Linked DNA regions of Homo sapiens: region 1 is linked to region 2. Evidence: fine-mapped expression QTL. A gene starts in region 2. The other region holds a variant in brackets. All regions are shown on one strand. Distances are from middle to middle.

Evidence for each region. PIP is the estimated chance that this variant, and not a neighbour inherited with it, causes the effect.
Region 1: its variant is fine-mapped to the expression of LINC02052 in testis (GTEx, PIP above 0.99).

Annotation. Positions count from the first base shown.
Region 1 is chr3:186,452,745-186,458,121 of GRCh38, forward strand. It overlaps LINC02052 (long intergenic non-protein coding RNA 2052), which reads right to left. Exons shown (of 8, transcript NR_033844.1): 4 at 4,597-4,886; 5 at 3,420-3,860; 6 at 3,244-3,301; 7 at 2,692-3,029; 8 at 2,237-2,430. Among named protein-coding and RNA genes, the nearest start is that of LINC02020, 15 kb to the left of the region's middle. The variant C/T (reference allele first, on the strand shown) is at 2,426.
Region 2 is chr3:186,490,938-186,496,314 of GRCh38, forward strand. LINC02052 (long intergenic non-protein coding RNA 2052) reads right to left here and starts at 2,724. Exons shown (of 8, transcript NR_033844.1): 1 at 2,169-2,724; 2 at 1,175-1,353. RefSeq lists an enhancer at 4,403-4,697.

The DNA of each region.
Region 1 (5,377 bases), 38 kb before region 2:
TGGTTCAGCAAGTGCCCTTTGACTCCATGGGACAGCTCAGAGGCGCGCCATTGTGGCTGCACGTTGGAGTCACCTGGGTGTTTCCAAAACACACCGACACTCAGTCTCCCCACCAGGTTTCTGATTTCACCGTGCAGGGTGGGTTTAGGCACCCCGGCTGATTCTCATTTGCAGCCCAGTTTGAAAAGAGCATGACCGAGAAAGGGAAGTCAGGCTGATGTCTTCTCAGCTCCAGGCAAATTTGAGGACTACTACTCACTCACTCTTGCCTCATTTTCTGAATTTCTCTTCTACCTTCTTCCTTGGGTCCTTGTCCTTCACTTCTGGGTATTTTTATGATTTTTAGGTTTTCCATGGTAGCACCGCTATTTTGCCTGACTATTCTAACCCCGAAAGTGTTTCAAGATCTCATTAAAATGGAAGGAATCTGATCAGACTAATTCGCAGTAAGATATAAATGATCGATGACCCAAAACCCCACCTAAGGGTATTTGATTTTAAATTTTTTTTCTAACCTTAAAAAAAGAATAATTTCACACTTATGGAAAAGTTACAAAAGAGATTTTCTAGATACTCTGTTTTAAAACATATCAGTGTTATTCTGTCTCTTCACACATACACACTCATATGTATACACGCATATTTATTTTTCGGAACCACTCAGAACTAAGTTGCAAGCATATCCCCAAATACTTCTGTGTGCATCTCTGCTATGGTTTGAATGTGCCTCCCGCCCCCCAATTCATGTGTTGAAATTTAGTTGTCATTGTGATGGTATTAAGAGGTTAGGAAATCCAATTAAAATTCCTATGTTGATTGGACGTGGAGTCTAGGTAATTAGGATTAGATAAAGTCATCAGGGCAGGGCCCCCGTGATGGGACTGGTAGCTTTATAAAGAGAGGAAGACACACTTGTGCTGACACTTGCATGCACTTGCCTCCATGCCATGTGATGCCCTGCACACTTCCGGACTCTGCAGACAGTCACCACCAGCAAGAAGGCCCTCACCACATGTGGCCCCTACACCTTGGAATTCCCAACCTCCAGGACTATGAGAAATACATTTCTTTTCTTTGTGAATTACCCAGTCTCTGGCATTCAGTGATAGCAACTGAAAATGGACTGAGACAAGCTACTAAGAACAAGAGCACTCTCTTGCATAGCCTCAATACGCTTGGCCAAAATCAGTACCTTAATGTTTACACAACACACTTCTCTAATCTACAGCCTCCACTCAACTTTTGCTGATTATCCCAATATTTTTTATAGAAATACAACAACAAGAAGACTGGGCTCGGTGGTTCACACCTGTAATCCCAGCACTTTGGGAGGCCGAGGCAGGTGGATCACCTGAGGTCAGGAGTTTGAGACCAGCCTAGCCAACATGGTAAAACCCCTGTCTCTACTAGAAATACAAAAATTAGCCGGGCGTGGTGGTGCATGCCTGTAGTCCCAGCTACTTGGGAAGCTGAGGCAGGAGAATCACTTGAACCTGGGAGGTGGAGGTGGCAGTGAGCCAAGTTCGCACCACTGCACTCCAGCCTGGGTGACAGAGCAAGACTCCGTCTCTCTCAAAAGAAAATAAAGAAAGAAAGAAATAACAACAACAATGCCATCTTTCCTTTACCCCCTTTCCTTTCTGGTTTGGGATGCAATACACAACCACACACTGCATTCATTTGTTACGTCTCCTGTCTTGGTCCTGAGACTGGGCACTTCACATGTGTTTGGCAGGAATGCCACGGAAGCAGTGCCGTGTCCTCGGTCCATCCTATCAGGTGGCACACAGTGCCCACTTGACCCAAGCAGTGCTGTTAGCTTCTGTTACCAGGTGAAGATGGTTTCTGCCAGGTTTCTCATAAAGTTAGTAAGAATTTTGTCAGTAATTATTAAGAATTGTATAAGGATACACTGTGAGGCCATATAAATATTCTGACCCTCATTAAACTTTCACTCATTTGTTCCAGCATCCATTGATGATTTTTAGCTGAATCCATGATTACTACAATGGTGGCCAAATGGTGATTTTCTAACTTTATCATTTTCTTCTACACCTATTAGATGGATTTCTACTATAAAAGAGAGCTTTCCCTTCTCCTCAGTTTTACTTATTTATATGAACATAGACTCATGACTTGCTATTCTATTCAATAGGGTGCAATAAATTGGTAGCATTATTTATTTTGATGCCCAAATTGATGCAGGTTTGACCAAAAACAATCCCTTCAAGCTGGCTCAGAATTTTGACTTTGAAAAGAGGCCAATTTTTTATTCAAATGTGTCTCCACATAGTAGGAGTAAGGTCTTGGGAGTAAACAGAGTGGAAATTTTCGGCAGCACGCCTGGTGATGATGAGCAAAGTGGCCTTTACCGTGTCAGCGCTCCCTCAACTGTTCCAGCCTCTCGAAGCTTCTTCCTCCTTCC[C/T]TGTCCTAAAATGGAATTAAGTGCTGGATCTTGGAGGCACCTTAGAGATGATCAGGTCCCTGGTTCCCAGACACTGATTGGCAAGGGCTGTGTGACTGCAACCCCTGGAGAGGTAGTTTCTCAGAATAGGTGCCCCCACCGTCACGCCAAACATTTCGGGTTCAAAAGCCCGACCTGGTGGGATGAGCCCTTTATCTGTGTATGAAGCCACCCAGATGACTCCTGTGCTTAGCCAAAACCCACCCTACTCCCATAAATACACGCACCCCGCTTTCTTTTGCAGGTGAGAAACCAGTGACTCAGAGAGGGGAATCCGCATGCTCTAGGTCATGCTGTGAATGTCAGAACTGGGAAGTTTCTTGCTCCGTTAACACTGGCTTTTTGCCTGCATTGTGCTATCTCATTACAGTTCTTTGAAAGCTCTGAAGTTTTTGGCTCCTAACAATTGTTCTCACAGCAGTAAGAATGAGGAATTTACCTGTAGGATGGACGATGCTTAAGTCAGGTGTTTGTAAACCAGGGGCTGTCTCTGCTCATTTACTTGATACTTACATGCAGTATGTTGGTTTACTTTACGCTGATCCCCAGAGTTTCATCATTTAAACTGAAAAGAATAATAATACTTATTTATATGGCCGCTATGAGCATTAATTTTAGAGATACTGTAAGCCTGGCACTTTCGCTAACTAAATATGCATTTACCACTCCCCCACCCCAAAGACACACACACACACACACACACACACACACACACACATACACACTCCCCTAATTTCACTTAAGGAAGCACTTTCTGTTACCATTTCTCTCTCTCTTACCTACTGACCCCTCACTGACAATAACAGCAGTATGCCCTTTTGCCATTGAGAAAGACAGCTGTAAGATAAACAGATGCCATTGCATTATACATACATGTCCCCCTGAGACCATTCTGCACTGTAGCCACCACCTCGTCCCCTGGGCTATAGAAATCTGACTATTAAACAAAACTAACCTTTAAACATGTAAACTGTATCCACCCGATAACAATTCAGCCATACTTCCTTACAAATCTAGACCGGACCCAATATGTTAAAGGCTTTCTGGCACTACAGTGAAGGAAGGGAACATCTTTCAAACATGTTTATAAATACTAATAACAGTACAGGGTGCTCAAGATCTCAAGCAATCCACTGCTGACTTTTTCATTAGGTGGTCATTTGTTGAACTTCAGCTCCCTTCCAATACCTTCCATTCATTCTCTTCATCAAGGACATCTGCAGTGCACGGCAGCATCAGGGGGCAGGCCTCCTGAGCCCCCAGCAGGATTCCATTTCTCCACCTTCCACTGCCATCCGACTTGCTGATGCCCAGGCCCCCAGAGGAGGAAGGGCTATCCTGTTGTTATGAGAACAAATGAAGCTAAGAAGTGGTTTGAGGTGGGAACAGCCAGGCCCTACAGACAGAGAGAGTGGTTAATAAATCTGTATTGTACTGAATTAAATAGAGCATCTTAAGCTACCTACTGGGGATGGAACAATGCAGAGACTCCTGTGTTTTTTAGTAGCATTAGCAAAAGAGCTTAGCATCGCTGCTAATTAAAATCACATCCACGTTTGGCTTCGGAATGCATAAGGCATCACAATAACTCAGCACTGAAGGGGCTTATAGTGGTTTTAAAATAAATCCACACATTCTTTGCAGTGTGCTCCCTTCAATGCAGCCTCATTCCTCTCCTCTTGAATGTAGGCTATTCTGAGTGACTCACTTATCAATAGAATGTAGTGAAAACGGTGGAATATGACTTTCAAAGATATGCTGTTGAAGACACTGCGCTTCTGTCTTGCTCTCTCTTTCGGATCACGTGCTCTTCAGGGAGCCAGCTGCCATGTCATGCAGACACTCAAGCAGCCCTATGGAGAAGCCACATGGAGAGGGGCTGAGGCCTGTTTCCCACAGCCATGTGAGTGGGCCATTCCGGAAGCAGATCATCCAGCCCTCGCCAAGCTGACAGACGACTGCATCCCCAGCCAACATCTAGACTGGAGCCTCACGAGAGACCAACCCGGAGACCCCACCCAGCTAAGCCACTCCAGAATCCCTGACCCCAAACATTGTGACATGATAAAAATGTGTTGTTTAAGCTTTTAAGTTGTGTGGTATTCTGTTATGTAGCAATAGATAGTTAATACCGGGCTCTTAATCTTTTCCATAGCAACCGTGACAAAAGGTAGTGCAGGCTCAGCTTGCACCTCCCATTGACAGAGAGCTTGCTTCTTCACAGGGCAGCCCCTTCTGTTGCTTGGCCAGTCTGTTACCAGTCCTGCTCACACCGAGCTGGTTTTGGCCTCTCTGTAATTTCCATCCCTGGTTCAAGATGTGCCTTGTGAAGCAAAGGTGAAGCTTCTCCTCTTTTATGTGACTGCCCTTCAGACAGCTGCAATTCGTGATTATGCCGGCCTCCTGTGTGCTCTTGTGCTGGCTAAAGAGAGAAGAAGGGGAGGCAGCACCTTTTGAGGGGCCCGGGAGAAGAGACATAGTCTGTCTATAGGAAAACAAAACAAAACAAAACAAAACAACAAAACAAAAAACTGCTTTATGCTCTCTTTTGTACTCTCACAACATTTTTGGTCACCAAAATGTGTGGGGTTTTCCCCCACATCAAGCAATTCTCTAATTCTCTGTAGATTTAATTGTAATTGAATTACAATTTAATTCAATTCTGACAGTAGCTAGAGTTAGTGCAGACCCCACAGGTTAAGATCCCAGTCCCACAAGACCAATTCTCACTTCAGACATCAATCGCGAGTAGTAGGTCCCCAGGTTACCCGCAACTTCTCTCTGACCTGGCTACACGGAAGGTTCTCGCAGCTGCCTCATTGGGTTTAATCGTTTGCTAGAATGGCTCACAGAACTCAGGGAAACACTCTACTTACATGTTTGGAAGATGTTCTTGCCTGTTTCACTGTAGTG
Region 2 (5,377 bases):
CAGGAGTTCAAGACCAGCCTGACCAACAGAGTGAAGCCCTGTCTCTACTAAAAATACAAAAATTAGCTGGGCATGGTGGCACCTGCCTGTAATCCCAGCTACTTGGGAGGCTGAGGCAGGAGAATTGCTTGAACCCGGGAGGCGGAGGTTGCAGTGAGCCGAGATCACGCCATTGCACTCCAGCCTGGGCAACAAGAGTGAAACTCCATCTTAAAAAAAGAAAAAGAAAAAGAAAAAAATTATGAGGTATCACTTTAGCCCCACCTGAATAGCAAAAAGTTGAAGAGAATGAAAACAGCTACTAGTTAATGGGAATATTGGGGTGAAGTTTCCCCCCAGATACTGTCTTTCTTCATAAGTAGAAATGTGATAGTGCCTCTTTTGGAGATCAACTTTGCTCTACCTTTTAAAATGAAAAAATCTACGTACTCTTCCCTTCATGAGTCCCTCTCCTTGGAATCTATCTGATAGAAGCAAGAGTCCATGGGCGTTTAATGACCATAGATTCAATATTATTCATGGCACCCGTGTTCCAAGTAGCCACCCAAACCCCCAACTAAAATCCAAACAAAAGGAAAACAAGTACACAAACAAAAACCAGAAAACGACCGGGAACTAAGCTAATAAAAGGGTTAGATCTGTTTCAGAAGACTTGAAGAGATTTCTAGAATATGCTTCTTATTTCTTCCCTGCCTCCCTGGTTTCTAGACAAGGTGGCTTACACCAGGTGGTTTTCAGGGGTTACCTGGAATGGGAAGGAGAGTTGGTGCAGATAAAGAGACATGCAGAAGGGAAGCAGGAAGGTAAGACAGCAAAAGACTGATTTGGGAGATATAAAAATATCTCCCAAAATAAAAATATCTCATTTATGTTAAATATGTGTATGTCTAAAACTTATGTATATGCAAAATATTGTCAACAAGTGGCTGATGGGATCATCTCAGGGTGGTGGGATTTTAAATGGTTTTTTATTTTAATTAATTAATTATTTCATAAAATTCAGCTCCTGTGGGAAGATGAACTTTTAAGTTATTTCCTACACTTTTATACACTGTTCAAATTGTTCCAAAGAGCAAGTGTTAATTATATAAACTGAAACAGCAATAAAGCTGTTTACACAGTGAGGAGGAAAAAAAAAAACAACTTATCAAGGATCCCTTATCCATGCACCCACCTGGTGATTTCTTTAAAACAAAATTGTAACCAGCCATGTCCTGGAGCAGACACGGTCCTTTATTTTACTATGTGATAAAGGAGGTAGTGCTTCTTTTGTAAATTCGAGCTCTTGCTCTGAGGAGGGATCCTTGACATTCTGAGAACTGTTAAATACGTATACATGCCTCGTTTCTAAACCTGAAATCATTTAACAGATTTGGTTATTGTCTGCTCCATTAATTGTGCTATTCTCCCATTGCAGACCAGTAAGCCAGGGCTGAGGGGATCTAAAGCTCCTCCCAGCATCACACAACTGAGAGCTCTCCCAGACACATCCCCTGGGAGCTAGTAGATAGACTGGAATAAAAATTTTGAGCCTTCACAGTCTCCCAAGCCAATCTTTTCATCCTACTATAGTGTAAGCTTCCATGCAAAGCCACCCTCCCCTCCACTGTTCTCTGGAGCAGAGCAGGTCTACAGGGTCAGGCTGCCTGGCTAGGCCCCTCTGTGAATGCCCCTTGATTAGAGAACCACTATTATTCTCCTCCTCATAGTCCATGGAAAATAAATACAGGAAAGTCAGCAAACTTTCAAGAATGATGATGCTGGCTGTTTTCAGGTCCCAGTCATCCCTGCAGCCTGGCCGTGCCTTCTGTAAGCCTGTTTCTTCATAAGCTCTCTGCCAGCAAAACTCCTGCAATAGAAAACCATCTGGAGAAGAGCCAGGCAAAGGCCTTGATATCGGTGTTCTGGGCGCTGGGATTGATCATGCAGAGACCAGTGCAGCACCTAAACAGGGACCATTTCCTCCAGCCTGCCCACAGCTGCTGCCCTCGGGGCTTGCTCTGACACCCAATTTTTAAAAGCAGGCTCTTAGAATAATAAAACCAGAGAATCTTTGAATACAGAACCATTGACTGTTAGAATCATAAACTATTGAGAGAAGAACCATGAAATTCTAGAATCTTGGCGTTGGAAGTTACCTCCCAGGTAAATGGGTTCTGTCTCCCCACCTAAGCAACAGGTATTTCTTCTGAGGAAACTGGGTGCAGCAATGATGTGGCCACAACACCTTGTAGATGTGGGAAGATGTCCACGGTGGCCACAGTAAGAAGCCTTTTTGTGGTCTCTACCTTCTGAAATAGTACATGACGCAAGAAAATGTCCATGCTTGTCACGACAAAAACTACTATTCCCTGGAAGTCTGTGGTACTTTTGAACTCTCTTAAAACTTTACCCTCCTTGAAGAAGGTTTCAGGAGAAAGAGGAGGCCCTGGAAACTCTTGATAATGCCCTCAGCACTGCTTCCAAGGAGCGCCAGTCATATAGACCATCCCTGAGAGAAACAAGAGAAAACGGGAAATTCTGACTTCTCTCTACTTCAGAACTATGAGCTATTTTAGTTGGCATTTTTGCCCCCATCCAACTTTTTTTGGCTTCGCTATCTAAAACAAATAAATAAAACAGCTGATGCTGTGAACTGTAAAGAATCTGAGCTAATTTGGTCCTCCCCTTTCTCCCATCCATTGCAGACTTCGGCCATAGCGCGTGAGCATTAGAAAACAACTTGTCGCCCACTCAACTCTCTTTCTCATTCCTAAAGGAAAATATTTATATTACGCCACAGAACGGGTTTCCATGACAGTGACGACTGTAACACTGTTGCCTTAGCAACCACTTGAGTCCATCTTGAATGATCTGAATCCCCTTCACAGACAAATAAGGAAAATCTGTCAAAAGTGCCATTCCGCTGGTGGGAAGTCCTGGAAGACGGTTTTCTCGCGCCCTCGTTCTCCCTCCAGGTCCGTCCCCCCGGTCCCCCAGTACATCTCCCCTAACGCTCACTCGGGAACTTTCCATATTTGCTACTCTTTCAAGAGCTTGCCCTCGCCCTTCTCCTAGTGATTAGACCCTAATCCACCATGGAGACGCTGCCCAGAGCTCTGCAAAGGGTTAAGGACTGGCAGGCAGAGCCGTGCCAAAGACAACAAGAGACAGAATAAATACACAGATCATCCTTTTTATAGGGCCTTGCTCTTGCCCCTGGAGACTGGGTGCACGTTTTTCTCTATCAGTCCAGAGCAACTCTGAGGGGAGAGTTTTATAGGAAAGACCAGTCCTCCTTGAGGTTCAGCTCTCAGTCACAACAAGTGGGCAGGTTGCCTCTCGGGCCTCAGTTTCCTCATCTGTACGATAAAGGGGTTGAGTGGAGGGTCCTTCTGGCTCTTACACTCTAGGAATTTGGGGGAATCAAGAATGTATCATCTGGCCGGGCGCGGTGGCTCACGCCTGTAATTCCAGCCCTTTGGGAGGCCGAGGTGGATGGATCACTTGAGATCAGGAATTCCAGACTAGCCTGGCCAACATGGTGAAACCCCGACTCTACTAAAAATACAAAAATTAGCAAGGCATGGTGGTGGATGCCTGTAATCCCAGCTATGTGGGCAGCTGAGGCAGGAGGATCGCTTGAACCCGGGAGGCAGAAGTTGAGAGGTTGCAGTGAGCTGAGATTGAGCCACTGCACTCCAGCCTGGGCAACAAAGCAAGATTCTGTCTCAAAAAAAAAAAAAAAAAAGAATGTATCATCTTCTTTCTCCCAAAGTCATCAGATTTCTTGTAGCATGCCTACAGAGAACTCAGATAGGACATCAGGACAAGTGACATCCTGGAGTGACATGGAGCACGCCAGCATTCACAGGGAGGTGCATCTTCCCCCATCACACGTGTGGGCACAGGTGAAAAGCACCGTCGGCATCAGCGGCAGTGGTGCTATCAGCACCGTAAGCACACACTGCAGACCAGGCCACTCCAACTCAACATCTTTTACTGGAGAAGGTGCTCCTGCAGGCTGATTAAATCAATAAATGAGCCCTCTCAGGGAAGCAGCGACTTTTCTCCTGGAGGAAATGTTTTCAATGCAATTCATATCCATCTCTGGAGTTTTCTTTGCCTCTTTCCTTATTGAAAAACAGCTTGAAAAGCTAGAAATGCTGACCTGTTTTCTTTCATTCATCTTCCTGCTTCTTACTGACAGGGAGAAAGCTGTTTTAAGAGAGAAAAAGAGCAGTTTAAATCGTTTTTATAATTTTACTAGCCGGCAAGAAAATCACTTTGCTGGATTTGTATGGAGACTAGGAGAAATGGAACAAAACATGGGTGGAGGGCCGGGGAGAAAAGAAAAAGAAGAAGCTGGTGCCACTTTAGGAGGAAGCTGAAATACCTCTTCACCAAAGCCCTTCTTGGAAAGTGTAATATCTACAAAAGTCACTTCAGACCTTTTCAGACTTCTGACCTAACTGAGAGGCAGGATGGAGTGCAGGAGTTTAGAGTGGGCTTTGGAGTCATACGAAAGTGGGAATGCACTTTGCTCCCACATCCCGTCTTGCCTGCTGGCCACAGCTGATTAGAGTAGGCAGGAGTAGATCCCTGACCTTAAGACAAACTAAACACGGCCTGACCTGATCTGACCCAAAAGGATTGGCTGGGTCAGCTGGTTTTCTTTCCTTAGGAGCCTGAATAGGAAGTAAAGAAAGAATTCAGCCTGGCGCGGTGGCTCATGCCTGTAATCCCAGCACTTTGGGAGGCTGAGTTGGGTGGATCACTTGAGCTCAGAGGTTCAAGACCAGCCTGGGCAACATGGTGAAACCCTGTCTCTACAAAAAATACAAAAAATTAGGTGAGCATGGTGGTGTGTGCCTGTAGTCCCAGCTACTTGGGAGGCTGAGGTGGGAGTATTCCTTGAGCCTGTGAGGTCGAAGCTGCAGTGAGCCAAGAACGTGCCACTGCACTCCAGCCTGGGTGACAATGTGAGACCCTGTCTAAACAAAACAAAACGAAAATAAAGCAAAGGAATTCCCCAGTCATTGGAGGACAGGTCAGGTCAATAGTGAAAGAACTGAAAAAGCACAACACTGGTAGTCATGGAATAAGATTCATCTCATCCAGACCATATCGTGTTCTGCATTTTTGTGAATCTGTTACCAATCTTTAAACTTTGGGATATTTTGCATAAAAACCCAGCTCTTTGGCTTCTCTTAAAAAGCCAGAAGCTCTGTAACACAGAGTCAGCATGTCCTGGCTGCAATCAGCTGGAGCTAGGGCCTGCAGCTGCCCGCTTTTCCTGGGCCATATGTTCTCCCATCCACCAGCCTCCACCCTGCCTTGTTACGCTCACACTCAGCTTACCTGCCTGCCCCATGTAGGCACTGGTGCATGCCTGTGT